2 linked regions of the Homo sapiens genome follow. The protein of the gene in region 1 purifies or fractionates together with the protein of each later gene. This does not show direct contact. Each region holds a gene or a part of one and is shown in the gene's direction. Other genes may lie near its edges.

What was found. Proteins that work in one complex are often made in the same cells at the same time.
Region 2: the proteins of MAP3K4 (region 1) and USP33 purify together in Homo sapiens (co-immunoprecipitation; one large-scale study listed by IntAct). This does not show direct contact.

Annotation. Positions count from the first base shown.
Region 1 is NC_000006.12:160,998,269-161,001,768, forward strand, and holds part of MAP3K4 (mitogen-activated protein kinase kinase kinase 4), read left to right. Parts: intron 1-3,500. UniProt on the Homo sapiens protein: Component of a protein kinase signal transduction cascade. Activates the CSBP2, P38 and JNK MAPK pathways, but not the ERK pathway. Specifically phosphorylates and activates MAP2K4 and MAP2K6.
Region 2 is NC_000001.11:77,721,853-77,725,352, reverse strand, and holds part of USP33 (ubiquitin carboxyl-terminal hydrolase 33), read left to right. Parts: intron 1-1,909; coding exon 1,910-2,022; intron 2,023-3,156; coding exon 3,157-3,329; intron 3,330-3,427; coding exon 3,428-3,500. UniProt on the Homo sapiens protein: Deubiquitinating enzyme involved in various processes such as centrosome duplication, cellular migration and beta-2 adrenergic receptor/ADRB2 recycling.

The DNA of each region.
Region 1 (3,500 bases):
TCTTAAAACCCTAATACTCAGTGTGATCGCATTTTAAAAAGTATGTGCATAGAAAAAAGATATAAAAAATACATACTAATTTTTCCTAAAACTTTTTATGATGAACGTGTTACACATTTTATTTTAAAATAAAAAGCTAATCAGAGAGCCTAAATTCTTAACTAGCTCATTTATAATTTTAAGTTTCTTTACGTTGAATTGTTACTAAAATTGAAATTGATGAGAGTCCATGTGATATAAAGAGAATATTGTTGCCAAATTTTAAATGATTTTATTTATTTTTGGTATCTGAGCTGGCTTATCTGAGCTGGCTGTAGCAAGCTGCTTTTAAAAAACTATTTACTTCAGCTTGGGTAATAGAGTATGTAGATTAGAAACAACTCCAACAGTAACAAAACAAACACAGGACTTACATTAGGGTGGTCTTTTACATTAATAGAAATATTTAAAATCTAGAACTGTGTTCTCAACATGTATATTGTGTTTAAATGCTTTCCCCATTTTAAGCGGTGTACTTGAAATGTCTATATTTTAAAAGATACATTATTCCACTGGCAGTGAGTATGGTAGGTGCATTTTTAGACCCCTGCAGATCTCACACTGTGTAATCGAGTGCCTTTGCCTTTAAATATTTATTCACTAGCAGGCAACATGAAGTTTTGTTTTTGAATTACAAGAACGTTCATGTTTTGCAATTTGCAGACCTACCTCAGCAGTATTGGTTTCATGGGTCATATGGATGCCACGTGTTTATAAATTAGCAGGGAAAGCTATTAAGAATATATTAGGCAGTCTATCAAAAGCATTTCATACATGGATTTCATTTCAGACAAAATAAGCCTTCTGTGGAGAAAAGTAGATACTAAGCTTTAAAGCTGATCAGATTTGATGTTTTCAGTGGAAGCTTTTTTGTGTGTGAGCAGGCTATTTGAAGATACTGCTGAAATGTAGAACTTTCTGAATAGGGCTTGTTAGAGGACAGCTAGTTTAGAGTTGTCAAATTAATAGAAATTGTCAACCTTTTTAGTGTTTCAGTGGGGAACTTTTGGACGATAGTACATTTATTTTATTTAAAATCCTAAAGTCTTTTTATATGGGAACATAAAAATGTAGATATAACTTGGTTTTCTCACACAATTTTTGGAGTTAGTTAGTTGTATCTGTTAAGTATTTAGTTCTTACTCAGATAAGGATTTAAACATTTGCTAATACAAGTTCTTACAGATGGTAGGACGCTTAGTGTTCATTTCATCCAACTTCCTAGCCATTGCTTATAGAATTACAAGAGTTGAGCTCTTATAAGATCATTTGGGCTGTGCGTCTCGTTTTAGAGATGAGAAAAATGGCCTAGAGGGGCTGCAGCTTTCCCAGCTGACAGCTTAGGCTCCAGATCTGCAAGCCCTTCTTCCCTTACCCTCGCATCGCCATGTGCTCCCCTGGTCAAGGTCCAAAGCCAAGGTGTTCTCCAGCCACCTGCCATACATAGCCCAGCTTAAGCCCATGTGCACAGTTACTTGGCAACCGTGAAATGCTGTATTTTCTGGATGAATTGGACTCAACAGGATCAAACGAGATGAAAGATTTGTTTTTAGAAAAAAATGCAAATAGAAAATATGAAATCCTCTTAAAACTCATCATCCACAACGTTTTTCCCCCGTGAAACTTTTATTTCTTGCTCGCAGAATAAAGAAGAGCCAATGCTCAGAAATTTTCAGATACGTTGTTATTTTCAGGCGTCGGTCTGTACATCAAGAAGACAGTAAGATTCTAACTTCTGGTCTGTAGTAGTGGTTTTGAAACTGTGTTTATGGTCGTGACCTACAGTAAGAAATATATTTTATGACAGTGTGTGTGTGCCTTATAACCAAAAGAAAACAATTTTGAAACAGTATTTGACCTTGCAATATATGATACTCAAATAATTCTTATTCTGTTCTATTAAAAATTGTTCATCATAACCTACTAAATTGATTTTATTACCCACAAATAGGTTGTGACCCTCAGTTTTAAAAGCATAGCTCTACCCAAAATAAAATGGATGCTGTTATACTTTGTACCTTGTCCCTTGAGACTGAGTCAGGAGAACAAGTACACTATTTGTCTACTAAATGATCAAATGGAATTTTGAAGAAGCTCGGCAATACTTACTTCTTGAAGACAGCATTGTTACCCGAAGGCAAGAGTAAGAATGTATCTATGCTTGTCTCTCAAGGTTGTTCTCTTGGCTGCTTATCCTTAAACTACAAGAATTGTAAAGATCAGTTTAAAATCTAGGATTAATTTTAGAGTAAAATTGGGATTGGCATTATGTGAATAATTTAGGTAATTTGTTGATCTTTCTCTGAAACAGTAACCTGTGTTTAAAATTTTTCACATAGAGCAGTCCTTAAGAAAAGAAAGGAACTCATTTTCCCCTGATATATATACACACATATATGTGTACACCATATATACACACACATACACACACATATATGTGTACACCCATCTGTATACACACATATGTGTACACCCATATATACACACATGTGTACACCCATATATACACACATGTGTATGCACACATACACATGTGTACGCACATATACACATGTGTACACATACATATATGTATATTATACTATACATATATGTACACACACATATATAGTGTATAATATGCATATATATGCACACATAGTGCATATTATATATAATATACACATATGTATATAATATATATTATATATTATAATATACACATATGTATATAATATATATTATATATTATAATATACACATATGTATATAATATATATTATATATTATAATATACACATATGTATATAATATATAATATATATTATATACACATATATAATACAAGTGTATATAAGTATATATGTATATACATATATATGTGTACACATATATAAGAAATCCAAATCCAAATACTGAAAAATTTACAAAAAATATTTACAAAAATATTTTTATCAAGTTATTAATTATAGGTGGAATCATGTATGTCTCAAGCTATGTGTTATAAATGTTATCAAATAATTCAAACAATATATTTCACATCTATATATTCTGTATATGCATGATATATATGTCATATGTAATCTATGTTAGGGTACAGCAGTTTCACTTTAGGTCTTAAGCATTGCTTACTTTAGGGTCCACCTTGACATTTCCCCCGCTTCCCCCCAGAATAGATGAGATCCTTCTGTTATGTGTCCTCAGAGCCCCTGCAGTTTGCCACCATTTGTAATTATATATTTGTGTACATATTTGTTTATTATGTTTGCCTTCAGTAAACTCCATGAGGGCTGGGGCATCGTCTGTTGTTTTGCTTACTTTTATTGCCTAATTCCTGGCTCGTTGCCTAACAGCAGGTTCTTTGCTGACACTTGTATGAAGGAGGCAGAGCATAGGTTTTGGTAGTAGATAGGCTTTGAATGTTACCTTTTGATTGCTAGCAGTAGGATTGTGGGGAAGTAATTTAGCCTCTCTCAGTCTGT
Region 2 (3,500 bases), on another chromosome or scaffold:
AGAATACAGAACAGCTCTAACACCCCAAAGAATTCCTGCATAGTACTACTTTGTAATCAGATCATTTCTCTATTCCTATGTTCTGGCACCCTTGATCCTCTTTTCTTATTGTTTTGCCTTTTCCTAGAATGTCATATAAATGAAATCATATAGTATGTAGTCTTTTGATTTTTTTAAATCTTTTCATATGTAGTCTTTTGAAACAGGTTTGCCTCTCAGGATAATGCATTTGAAATTCAGATATGTTACTGCGTGTCTGAATAGTTTGTTCCTTTTACTACCAAGTAATGTTTCTTTTTTTTTGTTTTGTTTTGAGATGGAGTCTCACTGTCGCCCAGGCTGGAGTACAGTGGTGCAATCTTGGCCCACTGCAACCTCTGCCTGCCAGGTTCAAGCAGTTCTCCTGCCTCAGCCTCCCGAGTAGCTGGGACTACAGGTGCACGCCACCATGCCTGGCTAATTTTTTGTATTTTTAGTAGAGATGGGCCATGCTGGTCTCGAACTCCTGACCTTGTGATCTCCCCACCTCTGCCTCCCAAAGTGTTAGAATTACAGGCATGAGCCACCATGCCCGGCCTAATATCTCATTTTTTATGGGTATACCACTGTTTATTTACCTACTGGTGGACTTTTGAATTGTTTCCAATTTTTGGCAATTATGAATAATGTTGCTCTAAAATTTATGTATAGGTTTTTGTAAGAACATTTTTTCATTTGTCTAGGACAAATACCTAGAAGTGGGGTTACTGGGTTTTATGTTTGTTTAATGCTTATAGTTGTATTAAACTGCCAGACTTTTTACCAGAGTGTCTACCATTTAGTATTCCTTCCAGGTATATATGGGAGTTCCAGTATTATGTTTTCTTAGAAGAAAACATAGGAGAAAGTCTTCATGGCCTTGGGTTAGACAAAGAGTTCTTAAAGACATTAAAAGCATGATCCATTAAAGAAAAAAATTAAAGATTTTTGTTGACAAAGGACATTCAGAGAATGGAAAGATAAGGTTGGATGTATTTATAAATCATATAGCTAGCAAAGGACATGTATCCAGAAATATATAAAGAACTCTTAAAAACTTTAAATAATAGAATCTTTTCTTCAAATAAAGCCTTACCTGGAGACAAAAACAAATAAGTGAAAACAGAATTGCTCTCAAGTCAGGATAGGGAGACCGAACCCCTTCTATTTCATCTTTAGCTTGATGATGACTTTCATCATCTTTCCCTCACTTTCTAACCTCTTCCCCTCTTCTTTTGACTTGTAAAACATTTAAGTAAACATCCCAGTGATGAAGCATTTGTGGTTTTGTGCTAATTTAGAATTTTGTTCATTTTCTCATATGTACATTTATGGTGGCCAAGGATCATTTATACTTTAAAAAAAAAAACAGGCTGGGTGCGGTGGCTCACGCCTGTAATCTCAGTACTTTGGGAGGCTGAAGTGGGTGGATCATGAGGTCAGGAGATCGAGACTATCCTGGCTAACATGGTGAAACCCTGTCTCTACTAAAAATACAAAAAAATAGCTGGGCGTGGTGGTGGGCGCCTGTAGTCCCAGCTACTTGGGAGGCTAAGGTAGGAGAATGGCATGAACCCGGGAGGCAGAACTTGGCAGTGAGCCGAGATCGCACCACTGCACTCCAGTGTGGGCAACAGTGCGAGACTCCACCTCAAAACAAAAAAACAAAAAAAAACAACAAATATCTTAAGCCTTGTCTGCTTAGTTTCTTTTATTTTTTTAATACTTATGCTCTTTTGAAGAGTATTTTGAAAATTTTCAACACAGTAATTTTTACAGTTTAAGGATTCTAGAGATCATATACAAGTAAGATTGACAAGACAAAAAAAGATTCCAGAGAAAAATGTTAAAGGAGCTGCTTTGATTTTTTTTTAATGTTTTTCAATCCTAGCTCAGTCTGCATCTCCAAAGAGAAAAAAACAGCACAAGAAATACAGAAGTGTTATTTCAGACATATTTGATGGAACAATCATTAGTTCAGTGCAGTGTCTGACTTGTGACAGGGTGAGTATGAGGGTATTAGAATACACAGAAAATTCGTGTCAAATGATTTTTAAAAATGTGACAAGATGATGTGAAAAGTTTAATTCCTTCTCTTTGCTATTGATGAGCATACATGCATTTATTGTGTTTACATCAACACAAATTTGATTCTAGGTGTAGAATTTTTTTTGGAAGTAGCAGCATCCTGTTTAAAGGATGGTGACCCATCATTGGACAGGCACATATTATCCTTCGTCATCTATTTTGGTTACATATAAAGGTGAGAAGTTGCTCAGCAACAAGAATTGGTAACACCTGCATATTCTCCCAGGCTGATGAAATTTGTATACTGGGAATCTGTTGATATTCACAGGTACAAAGCTGTGAATGTATCTCTTACATTTGGTCATATATGGTTTGTAAATATTTTTCCATGTTTAGGATGGGACTCAGATACTAAAGGTAGTATCAAATTCATAGACAATAACAAAGCATACATTAAAATCATCATGAATTTTTTAATAACACTTCTTCAAAGTTTCTTTGAGCTTTTCTTAAGTACAGTTTTACTTTAGTGCAATGATGAATATGAAATAACATCTCAAAAACAAAAAGAAGATTTCAATTATTGTGTTAGAATCTCAAGTCAAATCTAAGAACTTTCAATCGGGTCGTTTTAATGTAGGTTATTTTGGTACTAAATATTTAAGTGGAATTATCAGGCATGTTTTTAGCTATTTAAAATTAGATGCCAGATTTTGTCTCACCCTTTTAAAAAAATATTTTAAAACTACCATCAAAGGTCAATTTTCAAAAATAAATACAATAGTGCTTAAGAGTTTGGACCTCAAGATGCAGTGGCTGGATTTGGGGTGTTTAATGCTGCAGTGTCTGTGATTGTAATGGGGATGCTAATACTACTGCACAGGACTTACGTGAAGATACCTGGTACAGAGCAAGTGTGTTTTGTTTTTTGTTTTTGTTTTTTTTTTTGCTATTATGACTATGAAAGCAGTTCAATTTGCGTGTTTTTTTTTGTTTTTTGTTTTTTTTGCTTATTTAAACATGCTTTGATCTTTAGAGTCTAAAATCTAACCTTGGAAATGTTTTACTGCATTATGTTCATCCCATTTTTAAAACACAAAACAATTTTAGGTGTCTGTAACCCTCGAGACCTTTCAAGATCTGTCCTTGCCAATTCCTGGCAAGGAAGACCTTGCTAAGCTGCATTCATCAAGTCATCCAACTTCTATAGTCAAAGCAGGATCATGTGGCGAAGCATATGCTCCACAAGGGTGGATAGCTTTTTTCATGGAATATGTGAAGAGGTATGTATTTATTTTCTTTGTATTACATGATTGTTAAACCTGCTGTTTCTGCTGTACTGGCAGAACACTTCCTTTTTTTTCTATCAATGATGTTTCAGGTTTGTTGTCTCATGTGTCCCTAGCTGGTTTTGGGGTCCAGTAGTAACCTTGCAAGATTGTCTTGCTGCCTTC